Linked DNA regions of Homo sapiens: region 2 is linked to region 1. Evidence: fine-mapped expression QTL. A gene starts in region 1. The other region holds a variant in brackets. All regions are shown on one strand. Distances are from middle to middle.

Evidence for each region.
Region 2: its variant is fine-mapped to the expression of LINC00635 in testis (GTEx, PIP above 0.99).

Annotation. Positions count from the first base shown.
Region 1 is chr3:107,874,930-107,880,319 of GRCh38, forward strand. It overlaps LINC00635 (long intergenic non-protein coding RNA 635), which reads right to left and starts at 3,139. Exons shown (of 8, transcript NR_024276.1): 1 at 2,973-3,139; 2 at 1,201-1,257.
Region 2 is chr3:107,839,474-107,844,863 of GRCh38, forward strand. It overlaps LINC00635 (long intergenic non-protein coding RNA 635), which reads right to left. Exons shown (of 8, transcript NR_024276.1): 6 at 4,203-4,306; 7 at 2,632-2,739; 8 at 2,189-2,546. Among named protein-coding and RNA genes, the nearest start is that of LINC00635, 36 kb to the right of the region's middle. The variant T/C (reference allele first, on the strand shown) is at 2,337.

The DNA of each region.
Region 1 (5,390 bases):
TTGAGAAAGCACATTCTGATTCCTTTCAGAAGGAGGCACATTGGTGCCATGTGTGGAACTGTAGTGAGTAGCTTCCTGGTTCATCTCTGGGATACCTTGCCTTAAATCTTCCCTGGTGGCAGCAAAATAGAGAATGTGGAACCCTAAGAAGCACAGACTTTGGGACCATATGCAAACCTTCTCAGATGAGTGGGAGAAGGTCCTTTGAAGCCTAGCAGAGGGAAGAAGCAGCTCCAGAAACAGAAGGTAGGATTGGAGCAGTTGTCAACTGGTGCAAGGAGGTGCCAGAGATGGAGTCACTAGGAACAGCAGAGCCTGGAGATGATCTGAACATCAGATCAGAAGACACCCTGCTGGACCAGGCCTCCAAAATTCCCAAAGATAGTGGAAGGAGATTAGGAGGTGGTTGTTGTTGTTTTTTCATGAGAACATTTTCTCAGAACGAGAAAGAGGGAAATTTAATACAGTTGAAACCCCTGGAAAGCTGGGTGAAGATTTAAGCCAGGTAATGTATGAAGCAAGATCCAACCTCGGATTTATATCAGCAACTGGATCCTTAGAAACTGGGTCAGATATAATGATATGACATAATATAACCATGTCCTTCCATGGGTATTCAGAAACTGAAAGCGATCTTTCCTTTAACTGGGGCAATGAAGATGGGAAGAAAAGGTGATCATTCCATGTAACGTGACTACTCAACAGGCAAATTCCTCATCAAGTTCCTTCTGATATTGGGTAGAATGGAAGGAGATGGTGAAAATGTGTAGCTGATTCTCAAATGACAAAATGTGAAGACAGAGAATAGTCATGATTACTACTGGTTGCTTTTTTCCTCCCTTCTCACATCTCTAAGACCAAAGAAATGATCACTTGATCAGACTATTTGGGTAGAAAAGGAAAAATATCTGAGGGTTTGAATTAGAAGACCTAGGCTGAAGAATATTCTGGCTAGGCCATTTATTAATTATATGACTTGGGGCAATACATTCAACCCTTTTGATTTTAGAGAAAATAATATCTATCTCACACACCAATTGAAACAAAGAGTTTATGTGAAGGTGCTTTGTACTAAAGTTGCAAAATGCATACAAATAAAAGTAAGATAGTATATGAACAATTCAAACTAAAAAATACAATGATGCTATAAAAAAGACATAGTAAGTGTCGGTGAGGATGTAGAGAAGCTGAAATACTTACACACTGCTGATGGGAGTGTAAATATTATAGCCACTTCAGAAGACAGTCTGGCAGTTTCTGAAAATGTTAAATATAGATTTACCATTTGATCCAGCAATTCCACTCCTAGGTATATGCCCAAGAGAAATAAACACATATGTCCACACAAAAGCTTGTACATGCATGAATAACACAACAGCATTATTCACAATAATAAAAGGTGAAAACAGCCCAAATGTCCATCAACTGATGCATGAATACACAGAAGCAGTACATCTGTACAATGGAATATTGCTTAGAAATAAAAAGGAATAAAGTACTGATACCTGCTACAACACGAACAAACCTTGAAAACGTTATGCTAAGTGAAAGAAGCCAGTCACAAAAGATCACATATTGTATGATTCCATTTACATGTAATGTCTAGAATAGAAGAATTTAGAGAGACAGAAAGTAGGTTAGTGGTTGCCTGGGGCTGGGAGCTGGGTGGGGAGAAATGAAGAGTGACTGGTAATGGATATGGGGTTTATTTTGGGGGGGAATATAAATGTTCTGAAATTGACTCTGGTGATGGCTGCAAAACTCTGTGAATATATTACAAGCCCCTTAATTGTACACATAAAGAAACTTCAGTGAATTCTAATTTCCTCTGTGAGCAAAACCAGTGCAACACTAAATTTATCAGCAAGAAAAAGAGAATTCAAAATAATATACTTAAATAGACATATTTGGGTATATTTTGTACTGTTTTCATATTGATAAATTTTTGATTTCTGTATTTATATAGACATGAGATTTGTGGGACTGAGAGATTGTTAGTTACTCACAGTAACAATCTCCTCAGCTGCCCTTTTTCCCAATGCTTCCCTTTGGAGTGATGTGAACAGAGCTGGAGGCCACTCTACATGTAATGGGGTTGGTACTGTCGTGAGGAAGCCCCAAAAATATGAACCTGGGAGCGTGTATAAAATTTCCCCTTCTGAGGATGAGAAGCAAACTGAATCTACCTAATGTAAACAAATTCTCCTTGAGAAAAAAAGGAGGATTCTGGGTTGCTGCTCTTTGAAATATAAATACATGTCTCCATGAGGAAAGAAGACACAACCGTCTCTGAGTTTACAACCTCTGGAATGTCTCAAAGGCTTTGGGTCTCATCCCCCACTTGAAATGAAAACACAAACCTCCTGGAAGGAAAATCTCTTACCATCTAGTCAGTCATCATTTCACTTCCAAGACCTGTCTTTCAACCGGGTCCCAGTAAAATTTGCTCGGAAAGCTCAGCTCTAACCGTGCGGAAATATACAAGTATTCACTTTCTGACACACATTGGAAACATCGCTTTTACTCAAATACTTGTTTAAAAGGAACATCGATAGTGTATTCTTCTTTCTAAATCAAAGTATCATTTTGAAAAACATTTGTCTATTTAGATCAGAGTCAGAGATCCCAATATATATATTATGTTATATATATATTATATTTTGTGGGAAATTTATGAATTTGTAAATCATCTTGATGTCTTCATTTATTCATTTGCCGTTCCTGTAACTTTCACTCTACCTCACAGGGCTGAGGGGCCGTATATTTAGTATTCAGTGCTCCTGAAAATAGGCATCTGACTAGTATGTAATAAAATACCCTCAGTCCTCTAATAACTGAAAGTTGAGATTGCCTTTCATGGCAGATTGTGTTTTCCAGAACTGCAATAATATTTCCTGTCCCACATTCTCCTCCAGAACCTGGCCACATCTGCATCAAGAAGCAGAGCCTACTCCCCCTCTTTTTGAACCTACCTGGGCCTTTGTGTTTGTCTTGACAGTTAGAGTATGGTGGAAGTGATGCTTTGAGACTTCGGAGGCTGGAGAATGAATGGTAATACAGCTTCAGCCAGGCTCTCTCTCACTTAGGAAACGAGCCTTTGGAGCCCTGGGCCATCCGTAAGATGTTCAGCTACGCTGCTGTTGCTATGCTGAAGAGACCACACAGAGACAAAGAAGCATTCCTAGGGTCCCTAGAAGTTCCAAATTCCAGCTGTTTGAGTGGTCCCAGCCCACATGCCAGCCACGTGAGCATCAAGCATTCAGAATATTTGAGTGTCAACCATTGTCTGACAGCAAGTGTGTGAGACACTCTGAGTGAATACCGCCTAAGTGAGCTCAGGCAACTTCCCAAACTTGTGGGAGTTAATAATAAAATGATTGGTGGTATTTTACACCACCAAGTTTGGGAGTGGTTTGTTATGGGGCAATAGGCAACCAAAACACTCTTTGATTGTTAAACTAGCAAAAGCAATCCATGAAAGGATGAGATTATCTGTAGAAGTAACATCAGATGATATCTATTAAGTGTGCATTGGAGGAGACTTGGGAACACCAAATTCAATAAAGGCAAAATCTCAGGAAGGAAGGAACAGAAGTGACTGTCATCATGAAAGCTGATTCTCTCAATGGTAATGTACCAGATCTGCAGAAAGACTAAAGAGTGAGGAACATGAAATCTACATAAAAGAGAGTTACCAACAAGATTATATTGGTTTCTATACCACATTGTTTAATAAAGAAAGACATTGAATCTGGTGAATTATGGGAACAGGAATGATTTGTGGAACTTTTACTATGACCTGGGTTGTGTGTCCTCTAACACTAACTTCTCTTCCTTATTCTGACCCCCTGCCCACCGAGGAAGCTGATTAATGCTCGGCTCCCCCTTTAAACCTGCCCACAAGGAAAAAATGTGATGATCACATCAGCGCACAGTACTGTGGTGACCCAAGTGGCAGTTATCATTCTGTTGAGTGACACATTGTACATCGGGTTTATACATCAGTGCCTTCTAAGATTCGTTAACGTAAATCAGTCTCCTATAACGTTATCATCTCAGAGTGCATTGATAAAAATTGATTTTCTAGATGTGCACATCTGACAGGTGGAAAAGCAGCCTGATAACTCCTGAAAGGCTTTGTCACTCTGGCATCTGAGGTGGTATCACACACAGCCCTAATTATTCAGCTTACATCTGTTTAACAGAATTGCTATTTGTAATGATTATTACTGTTTAGCAACATTGTACACAAGACATTTTACTTGATTAAATTAAAATATTGAATTTATAGAATCAACGAAAGTTTTGGACCCTTACATTGACTAGATCCTAATCTTGGTTCTATAATAAATGAAACTATTTCTAATTTATTTTTGTTTTTCTATACTTTTGTCACCTTAGTCAATGGTAACAACAACAACAACTAACATTAATGTCACTGAGTGCTAGGCACACTGTTCATGAGGATGTTTTTAAAATGTTTAATCAATATATAATGATATCATCAGTGATTTTTTAAAATGTCAGGTTTTTAAGGTATAATTTACGTGGAGTAAAATGCACCCTTTTAAAGTGTACAGTTCTATGAGTTTTGATGAATATGTGCCATCATGTAACTAGTACCCAATCAAAATACAGAATATTTTCATCACTCCGAAAAGTTTACTTGTACCCCTTTGTGGTCAGTCTCCTACCTCCACCCCTAGACTCTGGCAACACTGAACTGTTTTTGGTCCTTCTAGTTTTACCTTTTCCAGAATGCCATATAAGTAGAATCCTAAAATATGTAACCTTTGAGCCTGGCTTCTTTCACTGAGCAAGATGCTTTTGAAGTTCATTGATGTTGTTGTGTCTATTGGTTGTTTGTTCGTTTTTATTGCTGAGAGGTATTCCATAGTATAGCTACATCACATTTTGCTTGGTCATTCAACAGTTGATGAACATTTGGGTTATTTCCAGTTCTTGGCAATAATAAATAAAACTGCTAAAAAATTGTGTACAGGTTTTTGGGTGGCATATGCCTTCATTTCTCTCGGGTAAATACTCCCAAGAGAAATGGGTAAATACTCCTAAATATTTACCCAAGAGAAATGGGTAAATATTTACCCATTTCCTAAGTATTTACCCAAAGAGAAATGGGTATTTACCCAAGAAAAATGAATTGTCAGGCTGTGTGACAAAGCTTGAAATCTATCTATCATCTCTGTCATCTATCTATCTATCCATCTATCTATCTATCTATCTATCTATCTATCTATCTATCTATCTATCTATCTATCATCATCTATCTATCATCATCATCTTTAAATAGAGATGGGGGTCTCACTATGTTACCTAGGCTGGTCTTGAACTCCTGGCCTCAAGCGATCCTCCTGCCTTGGCCTCCCAAA
Region 2 (5,390 bases), 35 kb before region 1:
TATCTCCCTTTTGCCTGTAGGAGGCAAGAACTTTGTCCATCTTGTTCACTGCAGTATCCCCAGTCCCTACAACAGTGCCCGGCACATGCAAACATGCGCTGAATGAATGGTTAACTTCAGGCCTTGGGAAAGGTAAGACCCCAGGATCCCAGAGGAATTGCTGGATTCCACGGGATGTGGGCAGCGCCTGGAAGTAACTCAGTCCTATACAGAATCTCAGGAAGAAGAGGAGCTCTGTGTCAGGGCAGGAGGATCCTGTGTCTAGGGAGAGATCTGCCATAAGGGTGAGATTGGTGGGTATGTTGCAGGTGGGAGAATCACTAGGGAACTTGAGGCAGATGAAGGTAGCATAAATAAGATTGGAGAGATGATGCGCCTTGCTTGACTGGCTGGAGCTGCAGCTCTCTATCCACCGGGTCAGAAGTGGAACAGGCATCCAGCGCCTCATGAATGCAGACCTTTCCCGACTCTACTCCTCAAAAACTCAGGTATCTTGGGGTCAAGCTTCTTTTCCTTTTTCAAACCTCAGATAAAAAGTGCTGGTTACAACTCCTTTCCATTGCAATTGAGTTACCAGCTCACAGTCCAAAGTTTGGTCAAGCAAGGAGCATCATCGCTCCTGTCCTGTGTGGCCTGCAGCACGGGCCGATTCAGTGGGAGAGGAGCACTCGAAAGAGAGAGAACAGATTTGCTGCTCATTCTGCACAGGGAGTGCTCGTTATGCGGCCGCCGTAACAAAACACCGTAGACTGGGTAGTTTAAACAACACACTTATTTTCTCACAGTCTGGAGTCCGGAGGTTCAAGATCTGGATGCCACCACGGCCAGGTTCTGATGAGGACCCTCTTCCTGGCTGAAGGGTTAGCTGGCTGCCTTCTCAGATGAGTAGGAGTGAGAGGGCGAGCCGGTGAGCTCTAGTGTCTGTCTCCTCCTATAAGGAAACGAATTCCATCATGAGGGGCCCACCGTCATGACCTTATCTAAACCTAATGATCTCCAAAGACCACATCTCCAAATAGCATCACATTAGGAATTAGGGCTTCAGCGATATGAATTTTTTTTTTTTTTTTTTTTTTTTGGTGGCAGGGGAAATCACAATTCAGTCCATAGCAAGAGCTAATTGAATATCTTCAGGGTAATCACTCCCCTCTAATAGGGGGAGAACTAACTCTGGTAACTTAAAGGTTATTTTCTTCCCTTATTGTGCCTAAGCCAAAGTGGCTTTCTGATCTCTGTCTTGTTTCTGCATAAAAAGAACAAAAAGTCATTTTAATGTGCAGGAGACGTTCTCATTCTACCTGTGAAAAATAGTATCAAAATGATAACTCACTTAGTTTGGGGCTTAGTGCTTTAAGGATGGTAGCTCCAAGAGGCCTTGGCATATAACATTCCTACCCTCGATTTTGAATTCAAAATTCAGATTGAAGTGGCTCAAAGCAAAGTATTATTTTTCTCCATTCTATAATTAGCCATCGCCAATAGCTAGTTGTCTAGCTGTTAATTCCTGTTTATATCCTGTAGTTCTTCAGCACATGCAGAATTGCTCTCACAAATCAGGGAGCGGAAGACAGACATCATGTGAAACAGAGGGGAATGTGATTGGCTTGTTGAGCCAGAAAGATCAGGCCTCTGAACAAGTGGTCTCTGATTAACTCTGAATTCTGACTGATTGGAGGTGTTTCACACATCAACAAATTCCACTGATGTTTCTATCGTCCACCGTTTGTTTGTTTGCATCACTATGCCCAGCCATCCCACCACTCAAGCTTTGGTTTCATGAAAAAAGCAAAACATTAAAAAGTTTAAAATGTGTTTCTGCTATCATGCCACCTCCCTGCAAACACCAGTCATTTTCTTAGCAGAGTAAAAACTAGGTTAATTATGGCAGCCTATGCCAGAGGTGACCTGGCAGGAATCCCACCCTCCATGCTTTTTGTTGGTTGTCTTTGTCTTAGGGTTTTTGCAAGAATTAAATAAAATAATTTGCATATGTAAAGCGCTTAACATGGTGCCATGCGCAATGAATATTAGTTCATTTAATTATTTTCATAATCCTGTGGAAAAAGTTATTTTCCCTTTGTATGACATAAGAACAGGCAGCTGAATGAATATTTGTTGAATGAAGATTATCTAGACCAATGGTTTCCGAAATTTCGGATTTCAAGGCTCATTAAAACTAAAAAGGAAATTGGGATTGATGCAGGGCTGCTTTTTATTTTTCTAAGCTGAGGCATGTGAAAATTAATTTCCAGTTACTAGCAACAATATGGTGTTACAAACAAAAGAAGTTGTACAGCAGATATAATATAGAATTAAAACAGAATAGATTTAACTTA[T/C]GGAAAGGCATGTCTTTTCTCCTGTTTTTCTTGATTTGCTGAGGAATGGTGGAAGTAAGGTGGTCTGGCAGAGGACACGAACTCACATTTAGAAATCTCTAATCCCATCCAAACCTTTGCCTCCATAAACCGTCTGAGCCAAGTGGTTGTTGCTCCTAATTTTAGGGATCCTTGGGCATGAAGATTTCACAGTCTTCCTGGCAGCTTCTTCTAAAGTTTAATCATGCTTAAGTTATGTTTGAGCCTGAGCCGCCCGGAGGATTGAATCCAAGCAATGAAGAAAAAGCAGCCTGACCTGTCTGCCTTCTGGGTGGGCTGTGCCTTCTGAGGTGTTCACATGTATAATCAAATCTCCTTGTGGTCATTCAGATTTGAAGATGAGCCTCACTCAGAGCAAGCACTCCTAGAATTAAAAAGAAAAAAAGTAAGCAATATGTGACTCTAACTGAAGGCTTTTTGCCCATTCTCTCTGGAAACATATAAGAATTCTGGAATTTGAGTCTATATAATATCATCCTTATGTCAAGTCATGAGATCTTCAATCAGAATAAATATGAAATTACAGTAAATATGAAATCAGAGTAAATATGAAATATGTCATGGTCTGGTATACCTCAACATAAAACCCCATACAGCCATTTGAGCCACTGGGGACATTTTACTTTTCATAGAAATTTCTGGGCCTCATAAAAGGACTTTTCATGTAAAGTAGTTATAATAAAATGAAGTCAGACTCTCTCCACTTGACATTTGTCACAATCATTGCAATGATATAGTTTGGGTATTTGTCCCCTCCAAATCTGATGTTGAAAATGGATCCCCAAAGTTGGACGTGGGGCCTATTAGGAGGTGTTTGGCCCAGTGGGACAGATCCCTCATGAATGGCTTAATGGCCTTCTCATGATTAAGTTCTCACTCTTAGTTCCTGTGAGATCTGGTTATTGAAAAGAGTCCGGCACCTCCTTTCTCTCTCTCTCACTTCTGCTCTCACCATGTAACACACTGGCTCCCCTTCCCCTTCTGCCATGATTGGAAGCTTCCTGAAGCTCTTACCAGAAGCAGATGCTAGCACCGTGCTGCTTGTACAGCCTACAGAGCTGTGAGCCAAATAAACCCATTTTCTTTAGAAATTACCTGGCCTTGGGTATTCGCAGGGGTTTCCAATCTTTTGGCTTCCCTGGGCCACACATAAAATACACTAATGGTAGCTGATAAGCGAAAAAAAATTGCAAAAAAAAAAACAAAACTCATAATGTTTTGAGAAAGTTTACGAATTTGTGCTGGGTCGCATTTAAAGCTGTCCCGAGCTGCATGCATCCCATGGGCCGCGAGTTGGACAAGCTTACTTTATTGCAACACAGACTAAGATATGCAAGGATCTGAAGTTTGTTGCTACTCAAAATGTTCAGTAGTAATCTGGGAGGCTATATATTCCCTTTGGGGCAGGGTCAAGTAAAATAGGGGGACTGACTTTATTTGTTAAGAAGATTAATTCATGTTACAGATAAGTTCCACGATGGGGCTGAATTTTCTTTATCCTTTTAAAATAAAAGCACATTACCAAAAATCCATCATTTTTTTTTTGTTTCTTTTAAGTTGGGTCTATACAAGGCAGCTAGTTACAGAATATGTTTCATTATTTGCACCCATTTGGTGTCTACATACAGCCTGAGAATGGTGAGAAGATTCGAGAGAACATGAATTTAACTTGAAGTAAATTTAGAGGACAATCAAAGGAATTATTCTAAGACTCTTCCTGATATAACAAATCAATAGGAATTTTGAAGTAAAAGTTGGGCTAAGGCTTTCTTACATTTAGTGTCTTTTTAAATCATGTTTTACAGTCATTTACCCTTCAGTCCTTACCTAAGATGACATCTTTTCTGTAGCCTCCAATCAGGCAGATGATTCAACAGAACAGTTGAAATTTTTATTATACTAGAAAGCTTCAACATGTGGGTTCACTGTATCTGAATGTGAACAGAAAACAACATTATAAAATATCAACCTGTAGTCTCAATCATCAGGATATTTACATATTTTAGTGTTTTTTAAAAAACCACCTTAAAATGAGTCTAATGGATTTCTATACACACATACAGACACAGACATTCATGCCATTAACCAGGGAATTGCCAAAAGCACACTCCCCATTGTGACTAAATGTTACCACTATATTAAAATGTTTTCTAGTTCTGAATCAATAAAGAAAGGCTTATGTTAAAAAAAAAAATGCGGCCGGGCGCTGTGGCTCACGCCTGTAATCCCAGCACTTTGGGAGGCCGAGGCGGGCGGATCACGAGGTCAGGAGATCGAGACCATCCCGGCTAAAACGGTGAAACCCCGTCTCTACTAAAAATACAAAAAAAATTAGCCGGGCGTAGTGGCGGGCGCCTGTAGTCCCAGCTACTTGGGAGGCTGAGGCAGGAGAATGGCGTGAACCCGGGAGGCGGAGCTTGCAGTGAGCCGAGATCCCGCCACTGCACTCCAGCCTGGGCGACAGAGCAGACTCCGTCTCAAAAAAAAAAAAAAAAAAAAAAAAAAAATGCTCCCAAGAACCCAGCAGACACCTAAAAAACAGGAAATATGTTGACTTTAATCAATATACACCATTTTAAGTGAAAGCATCACTCCTCAGAAAAGGGAGTGTGCTTTGGAGAAGGCAGAAAGACATTGTTCTGTGGGGGGATTTCTCTTTATCCAGGTGACTCTTTGCAATAAATTTTGAAAACTAAAATTAAACAGTAAATGTAGATTCCCTCTATGATATGTGGGTGTTTTGAGTAAAGTCCCAATTGTGCCCTTTGTCCTCCTCCCTCAGAAAATACAATCTTTAAATAAACATGGAAGGGCCCAAGACTGTACGAATTCACTCAATAGTACTCTTGCCAAAAGGAAGATGTATCACTGTTAAAATAGAAATGGCTGTAGTGGGCTTTCACAATCTAATGCCCCTGCTTTTAGCAAATTCAAGAAACTAGGACATTACTGGGTCCATATACTATCAAGGGATTCTCTTTTGAATACAAAGCACAGCCTAGACTGCATGAAGGA